4 linked regions of the Homo sapiens genome follow. The protein of the gene in region 3 interacts with the protein of the main gene of each other region in a biochemical or structural test. Each region holds a gene or a part of one and is shown on either strand. Other genes may lie near its edges. The genes, in order: MAP3K4, MAP3K5, MAP2K4 and MAP3K1.

Region 1 (7,275 bases), on a different chromosome or scaffold from region 3:
TTCCCTTTATTTGTTTCAATCATTTGGGTAATTCCCACTATTCTAATTATTTTTTGAAAGCATGCAATCTTTAATTCTTTATCTACTGATTTGGAGCCCCTGGGGGTTCAATTTAGATTCTTCATGCAGAGGAGAATGTCTGCAATAAGGGGTGATTTATGTCATGGTGGAGAAATAACAAAAACAGGCAAATCACCTCTCAGCAAATAAACAGTGGAGGTTTTCTCCAACTTCCTACTACTCAGCCAAGAAGGATGAGATTTAAGGTTATAAGGACTATTTAAAAAGTGTGTAACTACTATTCACAATAGCAAAGACACAGAATCAATCTAATGCCAATCAGTGGTAGACTGGATAAGGAAAATGAGGTACATATACACTATGTAATACTATGCAGACGTAAAAGAACAAGATCATGTCCTTTGCAGCAACATGGATGGAGCTGGAGACCATTATCCTTAGCAAACTAATGCAGGAACAGAAAATCAAACATCCATGTTCTCATTTATAAGTGGGAGCAAAATGATAAGAACACATGGACACACACACAGGGCCTATTGGAAGGTGGAGGGTGGGAGGAGGGAGAGGATCAGGAAAAATAGCTAATGGGTACTGGCTTAATCCCTTGGTGTTGAAATAATCTGTACAGCAAACCCCCATGACACAAGTTTACCTATATAACAAACCTGCAGATGTACACCTAATCTTAAAAGTAAATTTTAAAAAAGTTTACTATCTTTTGTACATATCCAGTATTTCTTTGGTGTTTTACCAGTAGATAGAAATAGATGCCACTGTATCATTATGAAACAAAAAATCAATGTGTGTCGTGCTTAGTTTAGGTCCTCTCCAATGGATGTGAGGTTTTTATTGCTCTCTTTCACTGGGTCTGCCTTTCTCTGCGTGTGCTGGAGTGAAAATTAATCAGCCCCTCTGGTCGTGAGCAGATTGCATGTTTGTGCTGCCTGTCTTTCTGCCTCTGCGGAGCTGTAGAGGAGCCACCAGAGAGCAGAGGGCCAGAACTGCTGAAGTTTTTGTCTGAATGTTCACACCGGAATCTGGTCGGGGGGAACTGAGAAACCAGAACAGGAATGAAGAAATGTGGGCTCTCCTGGTTTTAACTCCCTGCACTTCCAGAAGGAAATGAAGGGGTGTGCTCCCTCAGGAATACCACAAGGAAGGGAGGAACTTATTTTAAGTAAAATGCAGCACCACGCTAATAATAATTTTAAAAACTATAGCCTTAGAGGTTTTTCTTTTTAATAGCAGACATAACCCTATTTATCACATCACTTATTTTATTGAGACCATCCTGGCTAACATGGTGAAACCCTGTGTCTACTAAAAAATACAAAAAGCCAGGTGTGGTGGCAGGTGCCTGTAATCTCAGCTACTCAGGAGGCTGAGGCAGGAGAATCGCTTGAACCTGGGAGGCAGAGGTTGCAGTGAGCTGAGATCACGCCACTGCACTCCAGCCTGGGCAACAGAGCAAGACTCCATCTCAAAATAAAAAAATTTTTTTTAAATAATCCTGTGGCAAAATCCATAAAATTGACTAATATACTAGCCTTGAAATATGCTAAGGTGTTACAATTATGCCCTTTACATTTATGTACATATATATATATACACACTATATAGAGAGGAAATTTGAGACTTCATAATAGTGGTAGCATATGTCCAAGGTTTTTGAGTGTTTTTGGCAAAGCAGAAAGAACATGCATATGAATATGTAACTGGTTTTGTGTATGTCAAAAATGGGCTTTAAACTCATGGTAAGCAATGTTCTGAATGTTACGTAGCTCAACCTAGACTAGGTCTTCAGTAGAACCTTAGCTTTTTAAACTCATTTCAAAGTAAAGAAATTCCATAAGGGCTATGTGGATTCGGTCTTGAGGACAAAGAGTGAAAGGTAATTCTCTGAAGATTTTGTTGTCATTGTTTTTAACATGATTAGGCTGGGTGCAGTGGCTTACACCTATAATCCCAGGGTTCTGGGAGACTTGAGGCCAGGAGTTCAAGACTAGCTTGGGCAACATAGTGAGGCCTCAGCTCTACCAAAAAAAAAAAAAAAATGTTTAAAATTAGCTGGACATGGTGGTATGCATCTGTAGTCCCAGCTACAGCAGAGGCTGAGGTGGGAGGATCACTTGAGCCCAGGAAGACCCTGTCTCCAAAATAAAAAAAGAACATTATTAAAGGTAATGAGACAATGAGACCAACCATGTGCTAAACAAGAATAAAAATTTAGAGACAAAAATCTAATAACTTAAAAAAAATAACTATTTCATTAATGCAACAATACTTACTGAGTTCTACTAACACCATGTTGGGCACCAGAGACATTTGATCCCTAGGCAAAGGTCAGAAGAAGGAAGAACAGCTTCTTTCCTGAAGGAGCTTACACTATGGTGGAGAAGGCAGAAAAGAAATCTGGGGGCTGTGAGGCGCTCACTGGGAGCCCTGAAGACAAAGTGGGGGCACGGGGTGAGATGAGAGGGTTGTCAGCCAGAGAAACAGCTTTCCTGGACCCAGCATGGGGGTGGGGCGAAAAGTCACAACACTTATATTGAATATTTAGTACCAGTTAACTTAGGTTTCTATACATGATGCATTACTTGATTAGGTAAGTGTAAATTTACTTGGTTCCTGCTAAAATACATAGTATCCTCAAGTGGAAATTAAAACACAAGAACAAGCCACAGGTCTCCCGCATGCTGATTATATTTGCTAAGTGTTTTGTGACTTGGACACACGTGTCTGCATTATCAGCTAGCTTAAATTCGGTAGTCATACCAAAGAATACGTAGTACAATGCTGTTTAAAGAAGAGATTTATTTTATTATTTAACTTTTAAAGTCTCTAATATGCCTTCTAAGAAGGGTTCTGGCTCAGAAAATTGCAGAAGAAAATCGAGTAGAGAACTAGAATTACAGAAACCTAAGAAATACTTTTACTGAGCTTTCTTCACACAAGAAAATGCACGGAAATGAATTATACATGGATACCAATTTGTGATTTTTAAAAATTTGTAATTTTTTAAATTAAGATAAAAATTAGTTTATTTTTTTGAATACTTTTTTGTTTTGTTTTACCTCACCCTTTACTAAGCTGTTAGCTTGGTCTGTTGCGCTTACTGCTATATCCTCAGCATCTAGTACAGTTCCTGACACATATATGCACTTAATAAGTATTTGTCAAATGAATATTATTGAGTAAATAAGATGAAGGTCAATTCAGAAATTCAGCACTATCAGGCTATATACATAATACAGACTATTATAAAAAACTAGAATGGAGCAGTTCCTTTTAACGACGGAGAAATGTCAGTAACATACTTTGAGCACAATATAGCTAATTTCACAACTGGTCTTTAAATATAACATACCTATAATCAATTTAATGTTTTTCTTTGTTACCAGAGTTGTTCAAAACGTGCGTTTCACCTATCAAAGCTCAACTAAATGAGGTTTAAGAAATCTGCACATTTGAATGTACTTAATTTTAAAAGATTCTGGTTTTGGATTAACTCTGGATTTCACCCTATGGGAAATTTTGTAAATATTTCCAACTTAAAAAAAAACTGTGAAGCCCCAGCGCTAAGAGTAAACGATGCATTGGAATTTCAACAGGATTTCTGTAACTCTGAAATAATCTTTAGCATTTCTTCTTCCCCCCATCCCCTCAGTGTAGGAGCATTCCAGTCCAAGTTTCTGGGAGATCGCTATCGAATCTTATGACACTGGGGTGAGAAGTTTTGCCGGGTTGAAATGAGGGGGTCACTTTAATAATCTGGAATTCCGGAGACTTTATGTCAAGTCTTAAAAATTCGAGCCTGTGGAAGGCTGCGCTGTCAAGAGACCGGAGTTGCGAGCGTCTGGGTGACGTCCGTCCTCCTGGAAGGTGGGATCCGGGTGGCAGGTCCCTGGGCGGCGACTCCGGCCGGGCTCATAGCGTCGCGCCCGCCCCGCTCATCGGCCCTACCCAGCGTCCCTCCCAGACCGACGACCGCCTGGGAAGCCTCGAGCTCCCAGCCCGCTGCACAGCCCGGCTCCGCTCCACAGTCCCCCACTGCCACCGGCCGGGGCGACACCGGGCGAGCTGGCGAGACCCGGCTCCAGGACCGAATCGCGCCGACACTTGACGGCGCTCCCCGCCCCTCCCTGCCGCCGTCTCCGCCCCCGTCCGGTCGCATTCCGGCGCCCGCCGCCGCCGCCGCCACCGCCGCCGATCTGGGAGGCTTGTCCCTCGCCGCCCACCGTAGCCCCGGCGCTCGGCCGGTCGCCGTTTCCAAGATGGCCGCGGCGCGCACGGCTCCTGCGGCGGGGTAGAGGCGGAGGCGGAGTCGAGTCACTCCCGCACTTCGGGGCTCCGGTGCCCCGCGCCAGGCTGCAGCTTACTGCCCGCCGCGGCCATGCGGGGCTCCGTGCACGGATGAGAGAAGCCGCTGCCGCGCTGGTCCCTCCTCCCGCCTTTGCCGTCACGCCTGCCGCCGCCATGGAGGAGCCGCCGCCACCGCCGCCGCCGCCACCACCGCCACCGGAACCCGAGACCGAGTCAGAACCCGAGTGCTGCTTGGCGGCGAGGTGAGTGTGGCGGCCGCAGTCGGTCGCTCGCAGAAAGCGGGGCGGGTCCTGGCCCGAACTCGGTCGGGCCCGAGGGCCTCTGCTTCCCGCCAGGTGGGGAGGGAAGCATCCAGTCTCTGCAGGCTGGGGCGGGAGGGGCGCGGTGCATCCCTGGGTCCCAGGGGACCGCGTCTGAGTCTGTCCGGCGACTCCTCCCGGGGTTGCAGCTCCGCAGGGTTCCGCTCGAGCGTGTTGCCGGCTCCCCTTCCCTTGTAGACTCCCCCAGCTCACCCTCAACGTTGCGGGGGCTGGGAGCAGAGTGCGGCTGCCTCCCCTGCCGCTAGCTTCGGAAGAGTGGCCTCACTGAAGTGCCTCTCATCATTACTGAACGAAAGTGGTCCCTCCCCTCTGCCCTCATTCGAGTAAAAGAGACATTCGGAAATCGAGTGCGTACTGGCTATTTCCCCGCGTTCTCCTCCTCCTCTCCTTTTGCCCGCTCCAGAGAATGCCTGTCATCTCTTCCGTGAGAAATTGCACTTAGACTATGCAGACAGATACGTTGCTTTCCTGTTCTGAGGGCCCCTTACTGTCCTTTAGTGCTAGTATTGTGCAGATTGTTGCTCACACGTGCACAAAAGTAAGGATTCATTTGTCTAAAACTTTGCTACTGCAGGAAGCTCTAAGGTGGAACTTCGGTAACCAAAGCATTTGTTGCTTTTTCTTCCATACTCTATTAACTTATTTTTATGTCTTTATTTTTTTTTTAATTGAGAGAACAAACTCACCATAACTGAGAATTTCCCTCTTTTTACGTGCCTATGTTTGTATGTTCAAATGTCCTCTTACTCCCTGTCCTTTGCATCCCAGAGTAAACTTGCAAACTGCTGCCCCCTGTCCCCTGTAATGAAAATACCTCGGCAGCTCCTCTTGGCATCTTATGGTCTTGCTCTATGGTTCTAGGAATAAGGCAGTAAAGTGTCCTCTTTTTCCTGCTTAAAGAAAATTCACACCTGTAACTGTAGTTAGAACTGAACACAGGAGCCATATTCTTGCTTGTCATCATTCAGTTGGCCCAAACAAATTTGTTTTATTTTTATAAGCTGTGAAGAAATTAGTTGCCTCTTTTAATTCTGAGATAGTTCTGGGTACTTCTAAGGAACAACTTCTCTGAATAATGGTACAGGGTGTAATGAGAATTCCTTTGGTTCCTTTTGAATACATCTAGTATTTTTAGAAATTTTGTCAGAAAGTTTATTATAAATTTGTTAACGGATCAGTTTTCGAGCAATTTTGATACCTTTTTCTTTAAAATTAATAGTGAACACTTAACGGTTAAAATAGGCCATTGTCTTTATTTCTATTAACCCATTTAATCTTTTCAACAACTCTATGAGGTAGGTCCTGTTATACTCTCTTTTTGACAGATGAGGAAACTGAGGCACACAGTTTAAGTATCTTGTCCAGGGTTTCACAGCTGGTAATGAAGAAAGGTCTGGCTGCACAGCCCATGTCTTTAACCACCATGAAGAATTCATTATCCAAATGGGCGGATCAGAAATTAGAATTCTGTATAACCCTACTCCGGAAAGAAATGGACATGAGCATTCTTAGGTAAAAGCGAGAAGGGCAGAGAAATGAAAATGTGCTGCAAAAATGACTGCTGCTTCAGTGGTAAAAAAAAAAAAAAACTTGACTTTTCAGTCAGGCTTCTGTCTGTGTTATAATAAAAATAGGTCAGGATAATGGGTTTCATCCAACTGTAAGTGAACAGCAGTGTACGGAACAAGAAGATCTCAATATTTTTCTTAGCAACATTGCAGTTAATTTTACAATAGAAAAATCTGTAAAACAGATTACTTGACAAAGCTGTTGTTTTCTCTTTTTTATGTCCTCGTTGTCACCACCTGCTCTTCAATACATAGAACTGACCTCTGACAGAATTACTGTAGATCTTTGGTAAAAGATGTAGGGGGTCTATCCAGTTGTTCATTTGAACTTTTTTTTTTAACCATTTTAGAGGAGCTCAGTGTACGTGTTCAAAATGTGTGAAATGCCACCTCTTTTTTTTTTTTACAATTTTCTTTTTTATTTTATTTTCAATAGTTTTTGGGGTACAGGTGTTTTTTGGTTACATGGATAAGTTCTGTAGTGGTGATTTCTAAGATTTTGGTGCACCTGTCACCCAAGCAATGTACACTGTACCAAATATGTAGTCTATTCCTCACCCCGCTCTGAGCCTTCCCCCGAGTCTTCAAAGTCCATTATATCATTCTTACGCCTTTGCATCCTCCTAGCTTAGCTCTCACTTATAAGTGAATACGATGTTTGGTTTTCCATTCCTGAGTGACTTCACTTAGAGTAATGGCCTCCAGCTCCATCCAAGTTGCTGCAGTTGCCATTATTTCGTTGTTTCATGGCTGAGTAGTAGTCCATGGTGTATATATGCCACATTTTCTTTATCCACTCATTGGTTGATGGGCATTTAGGTTGGTTCCATATTTTTGCAGTTGTGAATTGCGAATTGCTGCTATAAACGTGTGTACATGTGTCTTTTTCATATGATTAGTTGTTTTCCTTTGGGTAGATACTCAGTAGTGGGATTGCTGGATCAAATGGTAGTTCTACTTTTAGTTTTTAGGTTTTTTTAGTTTTTTTTGAGACAGAGTCTTTCTCTGTTGCCCAGGCTGGAGTGCAGTGGCGTGATCTCAGC
Region 2 (7,027 bases), on a different chromosome or scaffold from region 3:
ATACAAAAAGTAGCTGGGCATGGTGGGGCATGCCTGTAATCCCAGCTACTTGGGAGGTTGAGGCACGAGAATCGCTTGAACCCCGGAGGCAGAGGTTGCAGTGAGGTGAGATTGCACCACTGAACTCCAGCCTGGGCAACAGAGCAAGATTCGTCTCAAAAAAAAAAAAAAAAGTATTTAGACCACTAAATGCCACAGGTCATTGGAATTATTAATGACTTCATCTCTTTCTTTCCTCTGCTTCAATTTCAATGATTTCTAATAATCTGTTTTGAAGTTTATTGCTCTTTTATCGTATTGTGTCCTATCTGCTGTTAATCTGATTTGATGACATTTCAACTTCAGATATTGTACTTTTCAGTTCTAGAACTCCCATTTGGTTATTTCCAGTTTCCAAATATCTCCTATAATTCCTCATATTTTCACCCATTATGTTCATCTTTTCAAGTAGATTCTTTGATATAATTATCATTGTTATTTTTATGTCCTTGTCTGGTAATTCTAAACTCTGTTTTATCTATGGGTTTATTTCTATGAATAATTTTTTTCTTAATTATGAATCACACTTTCCTATTTCTTCACCACTTTAGTAGTTGAGAGTTTTTCTTTCTTTTTTTTCTTTTTTTCTTTTTTTTAATAAGACAAGGTATTTTTATATTGTCCAGGCAGGTCTTGAACTCCTAGGCTCAAGCCATCTTCGCACCTCAGCCTCCTGAGTAGCTGGAACAATGGGAACATGCCACCACACCCAGGTTGCTTAGTAATTTTTATGGTGTATTAGACATTTTGGATGATAAGCTGTAGAGAGTTTGGATTTGTTCTCCTCCTCTTAAGAGTATGTAGTTTTTTAATAAAAGGTAAATAAATTATTGGTGGTTCACCTTGTTCACACAAAGGCTTATCCCACTCAATGTCCAGGTCCTCCGGCAGCCTCAAACTCACTCTCAGGCCAATAAGACTGTGATTTCCTGCTAGAGTTCTATCTGTCCTGCTCCCTGCAGACCAGGGAATGTCTTGAGGGAAAAGCCATTTAAATGTGGAGTTTATCCTATGCGGTGCCCTTCATCCAAGGATGAAAACCTTTCCAGTTTCTAGCTACTTTTAATCACTCTTCAGTGCTTTCCAACTTTTTTCCAACATTTATAATTGTTATCAACAGGAAGATAAGCACAATAGAATCTACTCTGCTGTTTCCAAAAGCTACTACTTTGATGAGCAGAAGCCAATTTTCATGTAGACCATTTTCCCAGTCTTATCTTTTATGGTATATGGCGTTTTTAAGCCTTGTTTAAGAAATCTTTGCCCCAGTCAGGGCAACATGGTGAAACCCTCTCTCTACCAAAAATACAAACAATTAGCCAGGCGTGGTGGCACACACCTGTGGTCCCAGCTACTCAGGAGGCTGAGGTGGGAAGATCACTTGAGCTCAGGAGGTGGAGGTGGCAGTGGGCCGAGATTGCACCACTACACTACAGCCTGAGTGACGGAGCAAGACCTTGTCTCAAAAAAAAAAGAAAGAAATCTTTGCTTATCCAATAGTCATACATAATTTGTACACTTTATTCTAAAAATATTTTTCTAAAGTATTTTTTCATATTTTGGTATTTAACTCACTTAGATTTCATTTTTTTGTGCATGGCTTAAAATGGGGATAGAACTTTATTTTATTTTTCCAAGCAGATAAAGAAATTTTCCCAGTATCATTACTACAGATTCCATCCTTTCCTTTACAGCTCATGAAGCTGATTCTGCCATAAATCTAGACTCATGTATATCTTAGTCTGTTCCAGGCTGTCTCTTGTATTCCAGTGCTTTGTTTGTCTATGCCTATAGCCATACTGCAATATCTTAATCATTACAGCTTTATAATGAGTCTTGTTAACTGGTGGAGCAAGTCCTTCCACCTTGTGCTTTTCCAGAATTGCTTTGCCTATTCTCAGTCCTTTATTCTTTCAAATAAATTTTGGAATTGGTTTGTCAAATCACATGAAAACCCCTGCTGGGGGGAATTAAAATCTTTAAAATATCAAGCCTTCTCATCTACAAACTCGGTATATTTTTTCCTTTCATTCAGGTCTTTTAAACTGTCTTTATATAAATTTTTCTACAAAATTATATTTTATTATTTATATTACTTATTTAAAATATCTTTTTAAAATTATATTTCTTAAATTATCTTTTCATCTATTTATCCCAATTTACTATACTATGTTAAATGAATTTCATCAAATTATTTACTAAAGTTATAAACTCTAAGATTGGCCCGGTGGCTCACGCCTGTAATCCCAGCACTTGAGGAGGCAGAGGCAGTTGGATCACCTGAGGTCAGGAATTCAAGACCAGCCTGGCCAACAGGGCAAAACCCGTCTCTCCTAAAAATGTAAAAATTAGTGGGCGTGGTGGCGGGCACCTGTAATCCCAGTTACTGGAGAGGCTGAGGCAGGAGAATCGCTTGAACCTGGGAGGCAGAGGTTGCAGTGAGCTAAGATCACATGACTGCACTCCAGCCTGGGCAACAGAACAAGACTCCATCTCAAAAATAAAATAAAATAAAATAAAATCTAAGGTTTAGTTCATAATACACAATCTTATGGATTATAATAATACTTTAACACTCTCATTTGCAAATACTTTTTTATGCCATGGATTTACTAAGTAAGTAGCTCATTTATATACTATTTACTTACCAAGAAGCTCCATGGTCTCTGCTTTCAGTGTCCGTGAAATTAGAGTCCAAAAACATATCTTTGTAGATTCGACCAACTAGGCAATACATATCTGAAGCAACTTGTCCTTCGCTTTGCACCATGGGAATCATAATATCAAGAGCTTTTGCTCTGTCACCAGGGAGATTTCTCCTAAGGCAGAAAACATTGTTGTTTCAATATACATTACAGAAGCAATATAGATCAATTCTTTTTTAAAAACCCTATTTAACATGTTGATTCATATTAGAGAAATTTGCCAGGACAGAAACAATTAGATTTTGAGAGTCCTCTGTAAACCTCTGTCCTAAGCCTAATTTTTTGTTTTATCCCATTGTATGTCTACTAGGTCTAACAAGGATTTCTTTTGAGTTTCTGTGTTAATAATGGTGATGGATTTGTACTTACTCATCCACAATCCTTCCAATTTCCCTGCAGCCTATATGCAGGTTCAAGTTGGTGAAACGAGATTAGAGTTGTAGTCTGTGTCTTTGAATAGGGTAGAGTAAATAAAGCCAAGTAGGGACAAAACCCTGACCTTAGGTTTCAATGGCTTTTGCTCCAAAACTTAGCAAACTCATTCACAGATGATACCAAAAATCAAATCAAACCCAAGAACTGCTTGATTTCTACGTGTGACTAACTGATTATCTAAGGAAGTTGCTTTATGTAGCATGCTTTAAAATAGTATGTGTAGACAGTTCACAAAACCAGATAAAAATTCTATAAGAGTTATCATTCCTTAGACCTTGAAAATATTATGCTAAGTGAAAGAGGTCAGTCACAAGGGACCACATACTGTATGATTCCATTTATATGAAATGTCCAGAATAGGCAAATCTGTAAAGACTGAAAGTAGATTCGTGGTTGCCTAGAGTTGGGGGATTTGGGAGGGAAATGGAAGGGGGGCTGCTAATGGGTACAGGGTTTCCTTGTGGAGTGATGAAAATGTTTTAAAATTTATTGTTTTGATGAAATATATTTAGTTTGTTTGTTTGGAGACAGAGTCTTGCTCTGTTGCCCAGGCTGGAGGGCAGTGGCATGATCTTGGCTCACTGCAACTTCTGCCTCCCAGGTTCAAGCGATTCTCCTGCCTCAGCCTCCCGAGTAGCCGGAACTACAGGTGCACACTGCCACACCTGGCTAATTTTTTTGTATTTTAGTAGAGACGGGGTTTCACCGTGTTGCCCAGGCTGCTCTCGAACTCCTGAGCTCAGGCAATCCGACCACCTTGGCCTCTCAAAGTGCTAGGATTGCAGGAGTGAGCCACCACGCCCAGCCTGTGAAATATGTTTCAATAAAGCTATTATAAAAAAGGTATCATTTCTATTCTCAATTACTACTTCAAATCTTCTGTCCAAGAAATTCCTTTTTATCCTTGGTAATAACTATCTAACACTATGTTCACCTAGACATAACCATCCTTACTCTAGTGAAAACTTTTGTGTGAATGACCATCTGGTGTTGAGTGTATTTGCTTAAAGATAACATCATATTCATGTAACTTTTACAATTCTAAAAAATATGAATAGCAAATACAAACTTTGACAGAGCAGAAAACCTGTAAGAATTTAAATATACCAACAGTGTGCGACTTTTTTTTTACTGAAAAATAAATCAGAAAAAAATGAGAATGCATGCTTCCTATATTTCATGGGGCTGAAGCAGATATGCTAATATTACATTTTAATAGGGACTTCTTGCAATGCTGCAGTGAACACATTCTCTGTAAAGAATTGCAGGTTACACAATAATATGTTAACGCATTCTGGAAGGGAACTTTTTCTTCTTACCTATTCAGTGCAAATGCATAATGAAACTTCACATGGTGATGGGAGGCCAAATCAAAGGTTGGCAGTTTTTCTAAAGTCTCTACCAGCTTCACAATAGAATCATAGTCCTTTCAAATTAGATGAGAATAGCACAGAATTAAACCATTAGGAGAAAATTCTCACAATAACGTGTCTTTTGACAACCAGATATCTGAATTCAAGAAACACATTAAAAAGACACTAGAATCCACAGAACACTTTGAAGAACCTAGAATAAACAGTTTTTGTTGTTTTTCTTCTAAAAGGTTTAGATCGTATATATAAAAACATTAGAAACATACAGTTACCATGTTGAACAAAAACTAAAAAAGCAAAAGAAACAAAAACACCAAGCATGATAGTGCTCTACTGTCTAAATATGGGTGATTTATTTCCCCATAGAGCCAGATTCCCGGTATGCAGTGTTCTAACAATTTCAGGGAAATAAAAATGTCAAGGACATGAGGCAATGGGTTGAACTTCTGTTACAAGTAGCAACACAGTTTCATGTCACATGAGTAAGCACTCTAGCCACAGGATCCTATGTGCCACAGCCCTCCATGGATGTGAGTCTGTCTTGAGCACATGAAGCCTTTACACAGACCTGAAAGGCTAGGAATGGAAAGGAGAAACCAGATGTCATTTAAATTTTACTATTAAAACCTAAGAGCAAATCCCTAACTTGGAGAGGATTTTATTCCACTTACCCTATTTTTAAAATTTTAAGACATGTCAATAAAAATGATATAACCTGTTAGTGTGTTTTACATTACATATTTTTAAAGTTATTTCTGTAGGTAATCAATTACATATTTTTTCCTTCAGGCGAGTTAGATTCAGCACTATCAATTTCAAGCAATACAATTTCAAGGGATAAAAGGTATGTCCAGAAAGCTCTAAAAATGTCTGCTATTTGCCAAAACAAAGCTTTCACTGACAGGTGTGCCTGAGGCTAACAGTAGAATAGACTGTGTCCACAGGTTCGCTGTGCCAGCAGATTTTTCTTTTTGTTCTTTTGGAGGAAAAAGTCAGGCCTTTACCATACAAGTCTTTCACAATCACTGATGGTTAACTCACATGAGTCTTTTTCATTCATCATAAAATTATAGGATGGAAAGCTTAAGAGAGTCAATAAAAAATTACGTGTAGTAACATGAACTGCTTACCAGCAAACTGAAATTTGAGGTTAATACTCCCTTATCCCTCCAACATGCTACACAACAAAGATTTCACTTTAAACATCTTCTCACCTGGATATCTCTGTAGGAAAGTAACAGATTTATGACAATATCTGCTGTCAAGACTTCGATATTATCTACTCGCTGCCGAATTCTTGCCAACTCAGCTGCCAATTCTTTACCAGTGTATAAATTACGAGCTTTCCTGATGTCATTGAGTATAGATTCCCGGAAGTACTGGCTGGTAAAAACACACACATTTCAAAGAGTTTGACATTAGAAACAATTTCAATGAAAAGCAATAATTTTAATAAAGACATGAATGATATTGCAGCATTAGCTATAAAGCATTTGTAGTTTTCAGTTCATTCAGATGCCTAAATAAATATCTTACATATCTGGCATTATTAAGAAATTTAGAAGCCAATGTATTTCTTTTATTACTCTGCCTTCAGAAAGAATTAAAGGTAAAGGTACTCCATATTAATAAATTTTCCTGCAAAAAACCACTTAAAATGCCAAAACTTTGTTTTCCATTTTACTGTTTCCAGTACAAATTGTTCTAAATAAATTAGATGTACCTATGATTTTTTGTTTGTTTGTTGTTTTTGTTTTTGAGACAGAGTCTCACTCTGTTGCCCAGACTAGAGTATACTGGCATGATCTTGGCTCACTGCAACCTCCATCTCCTGGGTTCAAGCAATTCTCTTGCCTCAGCCTTGTGAGTAGCTGGGATTACAGGTGTGCACCACCACACCTGGCTAATTTTTGTATTTTTGGTAGAGACAGGGTTTCGGCATGTTGGCCAGGCTGGTCTCGAACTCCTGATCTCAAGTGATCTGCCCACCTCGGCCTCCCAAAATGCTGGGATTACAGGCATGAGCCACGGCACTGGCCGTGATGTACCTATGATTTGAACATAATATAACCTTAACTTCCTGACTCAGCCTATCATTTATTAACATAAATAATTGTTCTTCACTGAAAGAACAATTAGAGTTAAGAGTTAATTAAAGTTGAATTGTTCTTGCCCTTACACTAGAAGTCCCTGGACATTTATCCTGGTATTGTTTCTGTACTTGCTTTGTATATATTTTTAGTTCTACCATCACTATAAAGCGGTTAGTAGACTTTTTAATTTTTTGCTGATTTCAAGTTGCTGTTCTGTGAATAAAATGTATTATGTGGCATCTATTTTATCTACTTGGAGGATAATAAACATTTTCCCCCTAGTTCTTAGCTGTATACTGATATCTCAGGAGCACCTGATATCATGCACAAATAAAGATGTAGAATAACACTTTATTGTCATCACCAAATGGCATTATTAATT
Region 3 (7,027 bases):
GAAGTCTTACATCTCCTGGGCCTGCAAAGCATATCTCTGCACAAGAATGACGAAAGTCTGTTTTAAAGAAAGTCTGAGTCTTTCTTAGAAAGCTGAATTCAAAATATTCTACTTTATCTGGGCTGCAATTGCATTTTCAAAGCCTGCTTCAATCAAATATAATTCTTAGTCAGTGTCACACAACAAAAACATTTAGTCACTGTTAGTATCGAGACAAGCCCTAAAACTGTAAATAACAATTTCAGTTCATTCTCGGGGTATCCTTAATAAATATGTAAATCACATTTCCCAAATACTCCATGTCTAATTTTTTTTATTTCTTGCCTTTGAAACTATTGTGCCATTTATCCCTAGTTATCACGATAAACAAATGATCTTCCAAACTGAGTCAAGAAATCTGCCCAGCCAGTCAACATCCACAAAACCAAAAGTTTAAAAGGTCTTACCACACAGGTTAGGTGTCTACACACACACACACACACACACACACACACCGCTTTTACATGTTCATCTGAAGAAAAAGTGATATGGGAAGATATAACAAAACCAAAAGAGGATTGAAAAATGCAGTAAGTTGAATTTGTAGTAGCACTAAGCCTATCCATTCATAAATAATCTAGAACACCTATAATATCTAGCCTGTGACTCTTACTTTTTTATTATTTATAGCACTAGGTTTGAAAACATATATATCAAGGAGGAAACCAAGAAAGAACAATTTTATTCAATTCTAAGCTTATCTTTAGTTTAAAACAGTCTACAAAGATGGAAAGAAATGCTGCTGGCAGGGAGGCCTCAAGAAACAACCACAAAACCTTATGTGTCACATTTAGTAGTGTGCTGGTCCCCAAAGAACCATGGCAACATTGAAGAAAGACATTAACACCTAGGGAAATGTCTGAAATACAGACACTACATTTTCATTCAAATACAGATCAAAATCCAGGCTGTAGGAACACTGTATGCAAATATACTGGGGTAAGATGAGTTTGATATCTATGGATGGATAGTGTACATCTGTCTCTTTGCAGGAAAAGAGGCTCCAGGTTGCAAAATACTGAAGGCCTCTACCTTTGCATTTGTTGGTGTGCTTCATCTACCCCTAAAAAAAAGGACTAACAATATTCAAAATATGCAGCTTCAGACTCTGTAATACATAGTGAATTCTGCTAATGAACTCAAGGCTTCCCATTTGTCTCACTAAGGGACGGTGGGAACTTTCTGAGAAGTTACCATCTGTTTAATGAGTTGAGTTCAATATAATGAAAAAACAATAATCAGAGAAGACCACAACTGCTAAATACCAAGTAAGAGAAATAAAGCAAGACAATGAAAACAGGAGCTGACTGGGATAATTTAGCAAAGTTTCATGGAGAGGCTAGGACCTGAGCTTGGGCCTTAGGGTAAGGGAAATATTCTAGCAGTTTCATGGTAAAACCGTATGACTAATGGCCAGCACAAAAGAGCACAGGCTCTCTGTGCAATGACTATCAAGCAAGAAGGCCTGGACTTAACACTTACTGCCATGTATGGCCTACAGCCAGCATCTCTTGTCTTGGCAATAGAGTCCACAAGCTGTCCACTGATGCCGAAGTCACAGAGCTTAATATTTCCACTTCTGTCCAGAAGAATATTGGAAGGTTTGATATCTGCAAGACATAGATATCATTCAGTATACAATTAGCTTCTTCCTAAGTTACATAAGGCTTCACTTTAAGCAAAAATATTGAAAAACCTTAGACAACATAAGTGGTCAAGTCCTTAAATTCAGATATATAAGAAGTAAAACATCTTCATTTATCACATACAATAATTATTCATGTTTTAAACATGTAGCTTTAATAACTATAATTGTGTAAATGTAACAGCAAAAGTCATTTCACAAACATTAATCTGTAAGATATAGATGGGGATTGATTTTTCTCTTAACATCTTCATATTTATAAAACACAGAAAAAACAATGGTTTTCTTCTATTGAAAATGAGAAAGGAAAACAATTTTCTGAATGCCAGTGCTTAAAAACTGAATATCAAAAAAAATTTTCACAAGAAATTTAGGCATTAAATTGTTTTCAAGAGGCTTACAAATTCATTTACTTAGTCCAGATTCATTACATAACAGTCAAAATATAAGGAATGTCAAATCCCTTTCTCATTGACAATCAAGTCACTACCAGTATGTGCCAACTAATTCTCTATCCATAGCTCAGTCCTTTTATCCATGTCCTTGTCACTATCCTGGCTCAATGAATAAAAAATAAGGTTTTAAAATATAGGATGCAGAAAACATCTAAATGTAACTCAGAAGGTGATCCACAAAAAAATTCAGTAAAGATCTCTTACCATGACCGAAACAGCTGTGGGCCTATCAAACATCCATTCCTAACCATCCATGCTTTTTTTTTTTTTTTTTTTTGAGACAAGAGTCTCGCTCTTTTTTACCCAGGCTGGAATGCAGTGGTGCAATCCCCACTCACTGCAACCTCCGCCTCCCAAGTTCAATCGATTCTTCTGCTTCAGCCTCCCAAGTAGCTGGGATTACAGGCATGCGCCACCACACCTGGCTAATTTTTGTATTTTTAGTAGAGATGGGGTTTCACCATGTTGGCTAGGCTGGTCTCGAACTTCTGACCTCAAGTGATCCAGCTGCCTTGGTCTCCAAAGTGCTGGGATTACAGGTGTCAGCCACCACACCCAGCCCCATCCATACTTTCTAACAGAACCTGTGTTTTATTGAAGTATCTCTTCTCATCAACATCCACACCTCGAAAACCTGGCTGTTGGCTGGTATAAGTTTTATAAGGGTAGTCTCATGCTTCTTGATAGTAGCTGGTTTAAGGGCATGAGGCACTTCTGGTGAATGAGCCAAGAAAAGGTATTAGAGACGTGGGAAAAGTTTCCATACTCCCTACAGAGCTGCACAGCACGAGAGCACCTCTTCTTCACGAGGCAGCCACATATAGACATGATAGTGGGAACTGCTCTAGTTGTTACTACCCTGAGGACAGAGTTAACACATGAAGGAGGACAGAAGGAAGAGGAGCATATTGTGCTTTGAGCCACCCCATCTTTGGACTAATTATGACAGATAATGAATTTCCCTGAAGTTTAAAGAGAGTTATCAGGATTTTCTATTACTTGTAATCAAAAGCACTGACTCCAACAAAAAAGCTAACTGATCCTAACTGATAAAAGATGGCTATAAACTCATCACTTCATTTAGTAAGAGAACAATAAAAGTTACTTCTGAAGTTTTTTTATTTTATTCAACTACTCCCCAGGCAGTACCTTGGTGCTTTACTGTGATCAGTAAATATCCCTAAGGTAACTATCAAATGCCTCAAAGGTGCTACTCTCATAATTATAGAACACAGCTAACAAAGAAGGGAAAAAAAAAAAAATCAAGACAAGAACAAGAAGAAATACAAGAGAAACAAAGAATTTTGTTTAGGGACCTAACTCTACATAATTTTAGGCCAAAAGAAAAAAAGATATTATTTCTAACAAGCATTAAGCCAAACAAAATTAAATAAAATTTACTGATGTTCAAGGTTCACTAATTTCAGTGGCCTAGTGTCAACCACAAACAAAAGAACTTAAATAAATGGCCCAATTACTAATTTCTTTAACCACTAGAAATTGTCTCCCAGAATTAGAAATTTTTCACTTCTCTTCATTTTGACCCTTTACTTTCCTTCCTATTTACTGTCAGGCTAAATCACACACTGCCACTTACTGTCAGGTTTTTCCGTTACAAATTTGCTGAGGGGTAGTGATTCGGTGTGTTTCCTCAAAGCCAGCACCTCATTACCCTGAGTCTAGCACAGTAATAAGTAAAGCAAGCACTTCATCTATTTGCCAGATTAAATTCAGGATTCCCACAGGGTTACTACTTTTCTAGGTCTGGCCTTCAACTACATCAAATGCTTCATTTGAATATGTATCTAATAAAGGCAAGATCACTGTTTACACAAATACAACATGCTTTAGAGAAATTTCAACTTATAATACTAATTAAAAGATTTCTCTCAATTTAGAAACATCCTCTAATGTGAAGAAGAAACAACAGACAGGGATAGCATGCCTTTAAAATGCTTGAGGGTACTATCCCTCAGATTCTTCTTTGAATGTCCACAGGACCACCTCGATGCCTTATTTGTATGCAGAAAAACATTATCTATCAGGCAAATGAATAATTATTTTTCAACTAATAACAATGTGCAGCAAAATCTATTTCAGTTTCTAAGTCCAACATACTAAGATAGACTGAAATTTATTGAATCCCAAAGAAAAAAATAGCAGTAATAGAGTTTTAAAGTACATAAAGCATTTTTTGCTAAAAATACAAATATTTTAGGAAAGTTTATACAGTGACACTGTAATTTTCAATAACCGTTTCACCAATTAGGAGAAAAAAGTTAATTTCTATTACAAAAAATACCAATCCATACCCACCTCTGTGAATAATTTTCAAGTTTTCTTTTAAGTGGTTTAGTGCTTTCACAGTCTAGGGAGAAAAAGGAGAGATGGGATAAACAACTTGTTTCTTTTTATTCAAACAGCACAACAGTTTATCACAAGTAATATCCCGTGTAGTCCTCTGCATACATTTTAAGCTTAATATTTCAATATTTTGTCATTTCTTGTTAACCAAAGATACTGAATAATTTTAGATCTAAAAGCTTAGTTGCCTTTATATGCTGTTCCCTGATAGCTCAAACAAACAAAAAACCCAGTAACTTAGACTTATAATTTGTTTAATAATTCATTTAAAATTTTATCTTTTTTCCTATCTCCAACCTAAAATTTCCTTTTTTTTTTTCCCTTTTTATTTTGAGACTGGGTCTCGCTCCCACCACAGCCTGCCAAGTAGCTGGGACTACAGATGCATGCCTGGCTAACTTTTTACATCTTTAGTATGGACAGGGTTCTCACTATGTTGCCCAAGCTGATCTCAAATTCCTGGGCTCAAGCGATCCTTCTGCCTCGGCCTCTCAAACTGCTGGGATTACAGGCATGAACCATTGTGCCTGGCCTCTAAAATGTTCAAAAATAAAAACAGGACAACAATGATCACTGAGTTGGTTCCATTTCAACTAAGAGTAATAACTTGCAGCAAAATCGATTTCAATTTCTAAGTCCAGTAGTAAATAAAAAAGTTTTCTAAACTCTCAGTTCCTCATCATCATCCACCCTCATTGGATGCTAAGCCTTCAAGGTGATGTTTGAAGAGCTAGTGTAAACTCTGTTCACCACTGTGGGAATTTATCCTGTTGCCTGGTCACTGATCATGATCAGAAAATTACACATTTCTTCAGGAAGGGAAGGAAAAGAGACACAACCTCAAACTAAAAGAGAACTAAACAACAGGCCAACTATTTGCTGTAAGGTGACGTCTTTGCTGACGTCAAGCTGCTAGGTACAAGAAATGTAGAACACATAAATTTGTTGTGAATAGCTATGCTTGTTTGCTGGTTTATTAATTAGCAAGAAGAGACTAAATACAAAGTATTTTACATGTGTGCTTAATATATATAAAGTGATCACCAAGTCTTGACTTAGGCAAATATGGAATAAATCATTTTTTACAGTATATATTCTTTATATTGCAATATATGATAAAATAATTTTCTGTTTTCTAATTTCATGGTCACCCTGTTATACAGCGGTTAAGAGCAGGGTTCTGGGATCAGGCTGCCTGGATTTAGATTATTTACCACTTACACACTTCAAAGCATATTAATTATTTAATCTGTCTATGCTTCAGATTTATCATTCATAAAAATGAGGTAACACTATTTACCACAGAGAGTTACTATGAAGATTTAATGTCACAAATAGTTTGATGCAAATAAGCATTTAATAACCATTAGCTATTATCATTTTTCTATTATTATAATTATTACAAATAGTAAGTTTCAAGATAACACGGGTTTAATATATTAGAGAGAGATGGCTAAACTAATCATTGTAAAATTTCATATACCCCGCTAAATAATAAGTTTCTAGTCTAAGTTAGCTTCTTTTTATACAATTATTTTTATAAAATTTAAAAATAAAATGATTTCATAAAATCTTTTTATGAAATTATTTGAAAGAGTATATATCTTGGTGAACTACATTGGAGGGGGAGTATGCAGGTAAGGAAGAGCTAGGAAATTACATGCAACCAAAGTATCTATTTTACAATTTCCTGTATGATTTAGTTTATATATCAACTAACCTAGAACATGCCATTAGCTCAGATTCTCAGGAGTTTCTAAGAATCTTATGAATTTTGCTCTATAAAAAGTAAATTATCTTTTTCCTTTAGGAAAAAAAATTAAGATTCAGAGCAAGAAACAAAGTGATCAATTCACTTTCAAAACTATAAACACATATGTAAAAAAGTAGCTATTTTCTTTTTTGGTACTCTGGTAAAAGTGAGTTAACCAAATTTAGTAGTAACACTGGCCCCTGAAACTGCTAGTCAAAATTTTAAATAGTTTAGACTGAATAACCAAAATCTTAAATCACAGTAAACATACTTTGTCCAAGGGCTTCAATTATGGAGTAACCAAAATCTTAAATCACAGTAAACAAACTTTGTCCAAGGGCTTCAATTATGGGGCTTCAAGGAGACTGCTGTGATTCTGATTAATTTCAGGATAACTGTGGTAATATAACCTATTTAAAAATAGTTAAAGCAACAGGAAAAAATGAACAGAAAATTGCTTTTCCTAGCTTTATTTACAGAACAGTCTGTTATGACTCATTGAGATTCAAAGGGAAAGAACATTGGCAGTATTTATCGAGACCATTATGACCTATTGTGTTAACTACCCCACAGAAGTGACTTTGTCTCTGGTTATTAACTATGAATTATTTTCAGGAAGGTACTGTGAGTGACACTCAAATATGTGCATTCAAAACTCCAGCAGCATCTCTATATAACTATATACACAATGAATAATTTAAAGACCAGGTACTTACTGCTAAAGTGATTTTGCCTAAAATTTCTTCTGGAATAACATCATCTAATACACTA
Region 4 (7,027 bases), on a different chromosome or scaffold from region 3:
TGGTGATCTACAAAGTAATACTGATTAGCTGAGGTTCCTCAGTTTATACAGTTTACATTTTTGTCAGACACAGTATTCATCTGACCAATGATCTTCCAGTACATAAAATGGCAAGAGTGCATCCTTTAAAGCTTGCACATGAGAGACTTGGAAACAATCTTATTAGAATTGTGAAAATTCTAAGTAGTCAAAAAAAAAAAAAAACAAAATAAAAAAGAAAGTCAAGTACAACACATTTAGAGATACCAAACTTCACATTTCTGTACTATTTTTAACTCTTCAAATATCGCCAATCTTCCAAAACAAAGGAATGTAAAATTTCACTAAGAAACATATTCACATAAAAAACAAACTGCCTTTTAAAAATTGTAAGCAATATATCCCTGTAAACTTATCTTGTAACTTATTTTATTTCCAATTTGTGTTGTACATTTTAAATGTACTCTATATATAGCTTATTTAGTTTATCCTGAGTCTTTGAGAATAACCAATTCTATTTCACACTGGCTTCTGAAGAGTTAAAACTAAAATCTCAAAGTTGTACTTAATAGTTAATCAGTACTTGATTTAAAAGACTCACACACACACAAAAAGATTAAAAAGCTACCATTTTCCTTCAGGATTCCATGCATCTGAATTTAACTCCAGACTAAAACCGTTAGGTAACTGTGCAAAATCCAAGGAATTAGTGTATAAATGAAATTCAATTCCATTTTTCTTTCTGAACACATTTTCCAAGTTCAAAGCAAATGTACTGTTTAAAAACATTACTGATTGGTAGTTGAATAATCTTTTTAAAAAATGATCTGCCAGGCCTACTGTAAAGAGATGATGCATGGTAAAAGGAAAATGGCAGCTCTATGTTACTACCAGTAGTGAAGGTGAATGATGGATTGTTACATACAGAGTAAGACTTAAATGTTGTGAAGTTTCCTACAGTTTGACAACCAAAACATCTAAAAAATTCAAATAAATTTTAAGGTAATCTTGATCTTGGTTGTGAGTTGCACCAGAGAGGACAGTTTATTTTTAGTTAACTTGTACTTAACCTGCACAATAAGAGTGGTGACTGACTCAAATGTAGGTAGTACTTTATTGTATTCCAATTTAAAAAAACAAAATTAAGTCTATATTTTAAAAACTCTGACAATAGCAAGATATTTAATGAACTCTACTTCATATCTAGTTCATTTTTTTTTTCTGGTTTGAAAAAAAGATCAGCTTTCCCTGAATAAACAAAAATGAATGTAAATAAACATGAAAATACAAAACCATAATTTCCAAAAACGAAATGAATGGGCCAACAGTAAAATGCACAATGAGCCACAACTGCCCTGGTATTTAAGAAAATAAAGGTCAACTGTGGGTCATAAAGAAGTATCAACTTTTAAAAATATATGTATGTATTGCTACTCATAGCATACTCTGACCTAAAAGAGGCAGATACTGATTTTATAGCCAGTGACAAAAAATTTGAACGGAATTGCAGAACCCCCTGCTTGTGATCACTATATGAAATGGAAGAATAATTGAAATATTAAAATAGATCCTGAGCCCCTCAGCCGCTAATATTGCTGAAAAAGTGCTCCAAAAAAATAAAATTATGCTTCTGCAATTTAGTCATGCAAACTTCATTGTTTTCCTGTTCACCTAGGGCCAGTTCTTTGAAAGGCACAGTTTACAGTTTCTGCACTAGTTTGGGCTTTTGCATACTGAGCTTAGGTACAGATCATGATTTGTCAATCACATACTTAGGTAAGGGTTCCCCACTGGCCTCGTTCATAGCTGTTCAGTGGCATCATGGCCAGTAGAATATCAATGTGGTTCCCCACAAGTTTTTTTTCTCTTGTTGAGCATCCTGTTTCTACTGTAGTTGATCTGCATAATTGGCTACCATGTAGTACGAAAGACTGGATGCTTCAGTAGCTCTCTTGATGGAGGTCTGTCCTGAGGTTGAAGTTCTAAACAACGAAGAGCCACATCTCGTAAACCAGGAGACAAATGTGAAGGGATCGATGGAGCAGTAGTTGCACTAGCAATCTGTGGAGAAAAAGCCAGTGTTGAAGCTTTGCACAACTGTAACTTCTGATACAGAAACACATGTGCATAGACCTCATAACCCTTACATTTACATCCTGAACAGAGAGGAACTGAAGCAGAAGTGGGAGGATTTTCTGCTATCAAAAAGTCTATGAAAAAATTCATCCACTGGATGGGAGGTTTTCTCTAACAATCTTTCAAATTTTAGGATTTTAGGATTTGATCAAATATATCCTATTCCTTATTATTTACATCAACAAGGCTAAGTACATCAAAATGTTCAGGTAGATAAAGTATTCACTCAAATGAATTCTGCTGTCCTCATATTCAATCTCCGAGATGGTTTGTTCTTACTGCACGTTTTCTATTTCTTCAGCATACAGAGCTATTTAGATTAAGAAAGACTAAAACTGAAGAGTCAATTTAATACATAGAAAACACAACTGCATTGTTTTTTTCCTTCCGTGTTGGACAAATTCTGATTCTTAGTATCAAATACACTATGAAGAATAACTTTTTTATAAACAAATTGTAAGTCTGAATACTTTTTTTTTAAAAAAAAAGAAATTTTATTTGGTCTTATTTGTAGTTTTTCTAAAAAAATTCAAAATCTGATAATTATTTTTAAATTGTGATACACTCTTTACATTCTAAAATTTGTGCTGCAATAACCATATTTTAATTTCAAGTCATATATAAAAAAAAGTATTAGTTTTCTAACAATTTTTGAGCACCCATTATGAATCAGAGCTGACTCCAGGCAGAGATAGTGTCTTTCTTGCATATCTCCCTATTTGTGGTATCAATTTTCTTCTTCTTGAAATGCATTCCTAAAAATAATTTTTTTCAGTGAGTGTCTGCTGAAGGTAAACTTCCACAATTCTCATGTGTCTGAAAATATCTCTATTTCATTCTTATTTTTTGATGATCATTTAGCTAGCTATGAAATCCTAGGTTAACTGTTATTTTATTTCAATCACTAGAAGGTACAATTTGTCTTTTGAATTCTCTTGTTGCTGCTGTATTCTGTTATCCATATAATTGTTATCAATTTTTTTTCTTGTAATTTGTCTTTTCTCTTTGGTTCCTTCTTGTCTTTAGCATTCTTCAGTTTCATTAAGCTGATAAGCAACTTCAGCAAAGTCTCAGGATACAAAATCAATGTGCAAAAATCACAAGCATTCTTATACACCAATAACAGACAAACAGCCAAATCATGAGTGAACTCCCATTCACAATTGCTTCAAAGAGAATAAAATACCTAGGAATCCAACTTACAAGGGATGTGAAGGACCTCTTCAAGAACTACAAACCAGTGCTCAATGAAATAAAAGAGGACACAAACAAATGGAAGAACATTCCATGCTCATGGATAGGAAGAATCGATATCGTGAAAATGGCCATACTGCCCAAGGTAATTCATAGATTCAATGCCGTCCCCATCAAGCTACCAATGACTTTCTTCACAGAATTGGAAAAAACTACTTAAGTTCATATGGAACCAAAAAAGAGCCCACATTGCCAAGTCAATCCTAAGCCAAAAGAACAAAGCTGGAGGCATCATGCTACCTGACTTCAAACTATACTACAAGGCTACAGTAACCAAAACAGCATGGTACTGGTGCCAAAACAGAGATATAGACCAATGGAACAGAATAGGGCCCTCAGAAATAATCCCACACATCTACAACCATCTGATCTTTGACAAACCTGACAAAAACAAGAAATGGGGAAATGATTCCCTATTTAAGAAATGGTTCTGGGAAAACTGGCTAGCCATATGTAGAAAGCTGAAACTGGATCCCTTCCTTACACCTTATAAAAAAATTCAAGATGGATTAAAGACTTAAATGTTAGACCTAAAACCATAAAAACCCTAGAAGAAAACCTAGGCAATACCATTCAGGACATAGGCATGGGCAAGGACTTCATGTCTAAAACACCAAAAGCAATGGCAACAAAAGCCAAAATTGACAAATGGGATCTAATTAAACTAAAGCGCTTCTGCAGAGCAAAAGAAACTACCATCAGAGTGAACAGGCAACCTACAGAATGGGAGAAAATTTTTGCAATCTACTCATCTGACAAAGGGCTAATATCAAGTCTGAATACTTTAAACTCACCTATCCACTCCTAATCACAAGAAAACTCTCTTTTCCCTACCCCAGTAATTTCATAAATGCTTTGGGTTAAAAAATGCAAAGTAATATAAAGAAAAATCCTCTAAGGTCTGTGATCCTGTATCATGATATACTCAGCTGATATATACACATCTTACACACCACAAAAAGGAAAAATACAAAACAAAAAAAGTCCCTCTTCCTTCTTTTCCCCAAATGTAACTTACTGATGATTTGTGTGTGTGTGTGTGGGGGGGGGGGGTGTGTGTGTGTCTGTGTGTGTTTTGTGGAGGAAAAAAGGCCAATATATTCACAGACTTAAGATTTTCTAAAATGTCTACAAAAGAGAAAACTTAATTTAGAGACAGGGTCTCGCTCTCACTGTCACCCAGGCTGAAGTGCAGTGATATGAACATGGCTCACTGCAGCTTTGACCTCCTGGGCTCAAGCGATCCTCCCACCTCAACCTCCTGAGTACCCTGGAGCACAGGTGCGTCTCACTATGCCCAGCTAATTTTTTTTTTTTTTTGGTAGAGATGGGGTCTCGCTATGCCCAGGCTGCTCTCCAACTCCTGGGTTCAAGTTTTGTTCTTGCCTCAGCCTCCCAAAGTGCTGGGATTACAGGCATGAGCCACTGTGCTTGGCCAGGATCACTTTATATACCTTGCTCTTTTCACTTATTAATGTATCTTGTAGCACTTTGTAAATCAACACCAACAGCTTCATACTCGTTTAATTTCTGTATAGTGTGGATAATTTAATTACTTTCTTGAGTAGAGTGAATAATCCTGAACTTGGCACTTGGTACTTCTAGAGGTAATCTTGAGTAAATTCCTAACAATGGGCATAGCTGAGTCAAAGAATAAGTGCATTAAAAATTCTGGCAGATATTGCCAAATCACTCTCTAAAAAAACGTGCTATGGCAATTTATACTACCATAAACAGGGTATGGAAGTGTTTGAGAAAGCTTTGGGGTGCTTCCAAAAACCTCAAAGTATTTACTCCAAATTAAGGAAACTGAAAATGTTACAGTACAATTCTCTTTAAACTCTACCTAGGAAGGAGAATGCAATGAAATCTGTTAAAATATGAACTGTGCCAATTTGAAAATTATTTACAATTGTTTCCAGGGTCTCATCAAAACTCTTAAAATAACATCAAACTTTCAAATTGATCCTAGCCATGAGTATTTATTGAGCAACTTCTGTATAAGACTCTGGGAAGAAGAAAATGAATCAGACATGAATGGACCTCAAGGAGAATTAGTTTGAAAGAGGCAGCAAGATAGGAACATAACTAGCAAACAAGAAACAAAGTGTCAGAAACAAGTATGTACTAAAATGCTATGAGAATCTGGAATGAGTAAAAAGGGGGTGCCCAAGCAGGAGAAGCACAAAATGGGGGCCTTAAAGAGAATAAGAATTTGAACCACGTAGAGAACGGACATGGGACGTCTGAAAGAATAGAGGAAATGAGGTGATAATACAAAACAGGTATTGTCAGAGAGGTGACTGAGGAGGTTATATAATAAGTGTGGGGAGCACTGGAGGAGGTTATGGCAGGTGGAGCTGACTGTGTGGGCTGAGTGCTTGACTAAGGCCTAGGTATAATTTTGTTTATCTTCATAGTAATCCCACGAAGTACATGCTTCATGGGGTTCTTGCACCAATTTTACATGTGAGAAAATGGAGGGTAGACACAAAAAATAATTTTCCTATGATTACATGGCCATTAAGGGGTAGAGCCAGGGTTTAAAACTAGGTCAGTGTGACTCCAAAGCCCATGATTTCAACCATCACATCTACTGAAAAGCTAAGAATATCAACCATTACTTATTCTATGGTGGAAAAGGAGAGAATGGATTTGTGAGTTATAAAAAAGTAGGAAAGGCAGACAGGACTGAACTGACTTGGGTGTGAATTTTTAAAATATACAAAATAGTAAATTAGGCCAGGAGTGGTGGCTCACGCCTGTAATCCCAGTACTTTGGGAGGCTGAGGTGGGCTTGAGGTCAGGAGTTCGAGACCAGCCTGGCCAATATGGTGAAACTCCATCTCTACTAAAAATACAAAAATTAGCTGGGCATGGTGGCGCGTGCCTGTAGTCTCAGCTACCTGGGAGGCTGAGGCAGGAGAACTGCCTGAACCTGGGAAGCGGAGGCTATAGTGAGCTGAGATCGTGCCACTGCACTCCAGCCTGGGCACTGCAGCGAGACTCTGTCTCAAAAACAAAAACAAAAAACAAACGAACAAAAGAAAATGGTAAATTAGATTTTAAGATTTTTGAATTATGTAAAATGCATGAATTTCACGTTTTTAAAGTGATGGATGGATATATATACACACATACATATACATATAAACACACTACATATTTCTTCTAGAAGCAGTGTTTTAGTATTTGCTAATTCAATATTTGTAGCAACTTAACAGAGCATAACTACCTCAAATAACAAGAAGTGACTATGTATGTCACTAACATTGACAACACCATTGACAATATCAACTCCTGGAAATACACACATACACAGATGCTCTTCAACTTACGCTGAGGTTATGTCGTGATAAACCCCTTTTAAGTTGATGATATTTTTTTAAGTTGAAAATGCAGTTAATACACCTAACCTGCCAAACATTATAGCTTAGTCTGGCCTACCTTGAATGTGCTTATAATACCTACATTAGCCTACTGTTCCGCAAAATCATCTGACAACACAGTCCACTATAGAGTATTGGTTGTTCACTCTCGTGATTGTGTGGCTGACTGGGAGCTGTGACTCGCTGCCACTGCCTAGCATCACCAGTGTATCATAGCACATATTGCTAGCTCAGACAAAAATCAAAATTCAAAGTATGGTTTTTACCAA

What was found.
Region 1: the proteins of MAP2K4 (region 3) and MAP3K4 form a complex in vitro, tested with the Homo sapiens proteins (2 studies listed by BioGRID, with this or other methods).
Region 2: of the proteins of MAP2K4 (region 3) and MAP3K5, one has a biochemical effect on the other in vitro, tested with the Homo sapiens proteins (3 studies listed by BioGRID).
Region 4: of the proteins of MAP2K4 (region 3) and MAP3K1, one has a biochemical effect on the other in vitro, tested with the Homo sapiens proteins (7 studies listed by BioGRID and IntAct, with this or other methods).

What each region holds. Positions count from the first base shown.
Region 1 is NC_000006.12:160,987,498-160,994,772, forward strand, and holds the start of MAP3K4 (mitogen-activated protein kinase kinase kinase 4), read left to right. Parts: upstream 1-4,271; 5' UTR 4,272-4,434; coding exon 4,435-4,586; exon of another isoform or gene 4,587-4,845; intron 4,846-7,275. UniProt on the Homo sapiens protein: Component of a protein kinase signal transduction cascade. Activates the CSBP2, P38 and JNK MAPK pathways, but not the ERK pathway. Specifically phosphorylates and activates MAP2K4 and MAP2K6.
Region 2 is NC_000006.12:136,691,453-136,698,479, forward strand, and holds part of MAP3K5 (mitogen-activated protein kinase kinase kinase 5), read right to left. Parts: intron 5,936-7,027; coding exon 5,767-5,935; intron 4,606-5,766; coding exon 4,499-4,605; intron 2,859-4,498; coding exon 2,688-2,858; intron 1-2,687. UniProt on the Homo sapiens protein: Serine/threonine kinase which acts as an essential component of the MAP kinase signal transduction pathway. Plays an important role in the cascades of cellular responses evoked by changes in the environment.
Region 3 is NC_000017.11:12,107,855-12,114,881, reverse strand, and holds part of MAP2K4 (dual specificity mitogen-activated protein kinase kinase 4), read right to left. Parts: coding exon 6,973-7,027; intron 4,508-6,972; coding exon 4,456-4,507; intron 1,650-4,455; coding exon 1,522-1,649; intron 1-1,521. UniProt on the Homo sapiens protein: Dual specificity protein kinase which acts as an essential component of the MAP kinase signal transduction pathway. Essential component of the stress-activated protein kinase/c-Jun N-terminal kinase (SAP/JNK) signaling pathway.
Region 4 is NC_000005.10:56,888,544-56,895,570, reverse strand, and holds part of MAP3K1 (mitogen-activated protein kinase kinase kinase 1), read right to left. Parts: intron 2,041-7,027; coding exon 1,891-2,040; 3' UTR 1-1,890. UniProt on the Homo sapiens protein: Component of a protein kinase signal transduction cascade. Activates the ERK and JNK kinase pathways by phosphorylation of MAP2K1 and MAP2K4. May phosphorylate the MAPK8/JNK1 kinase.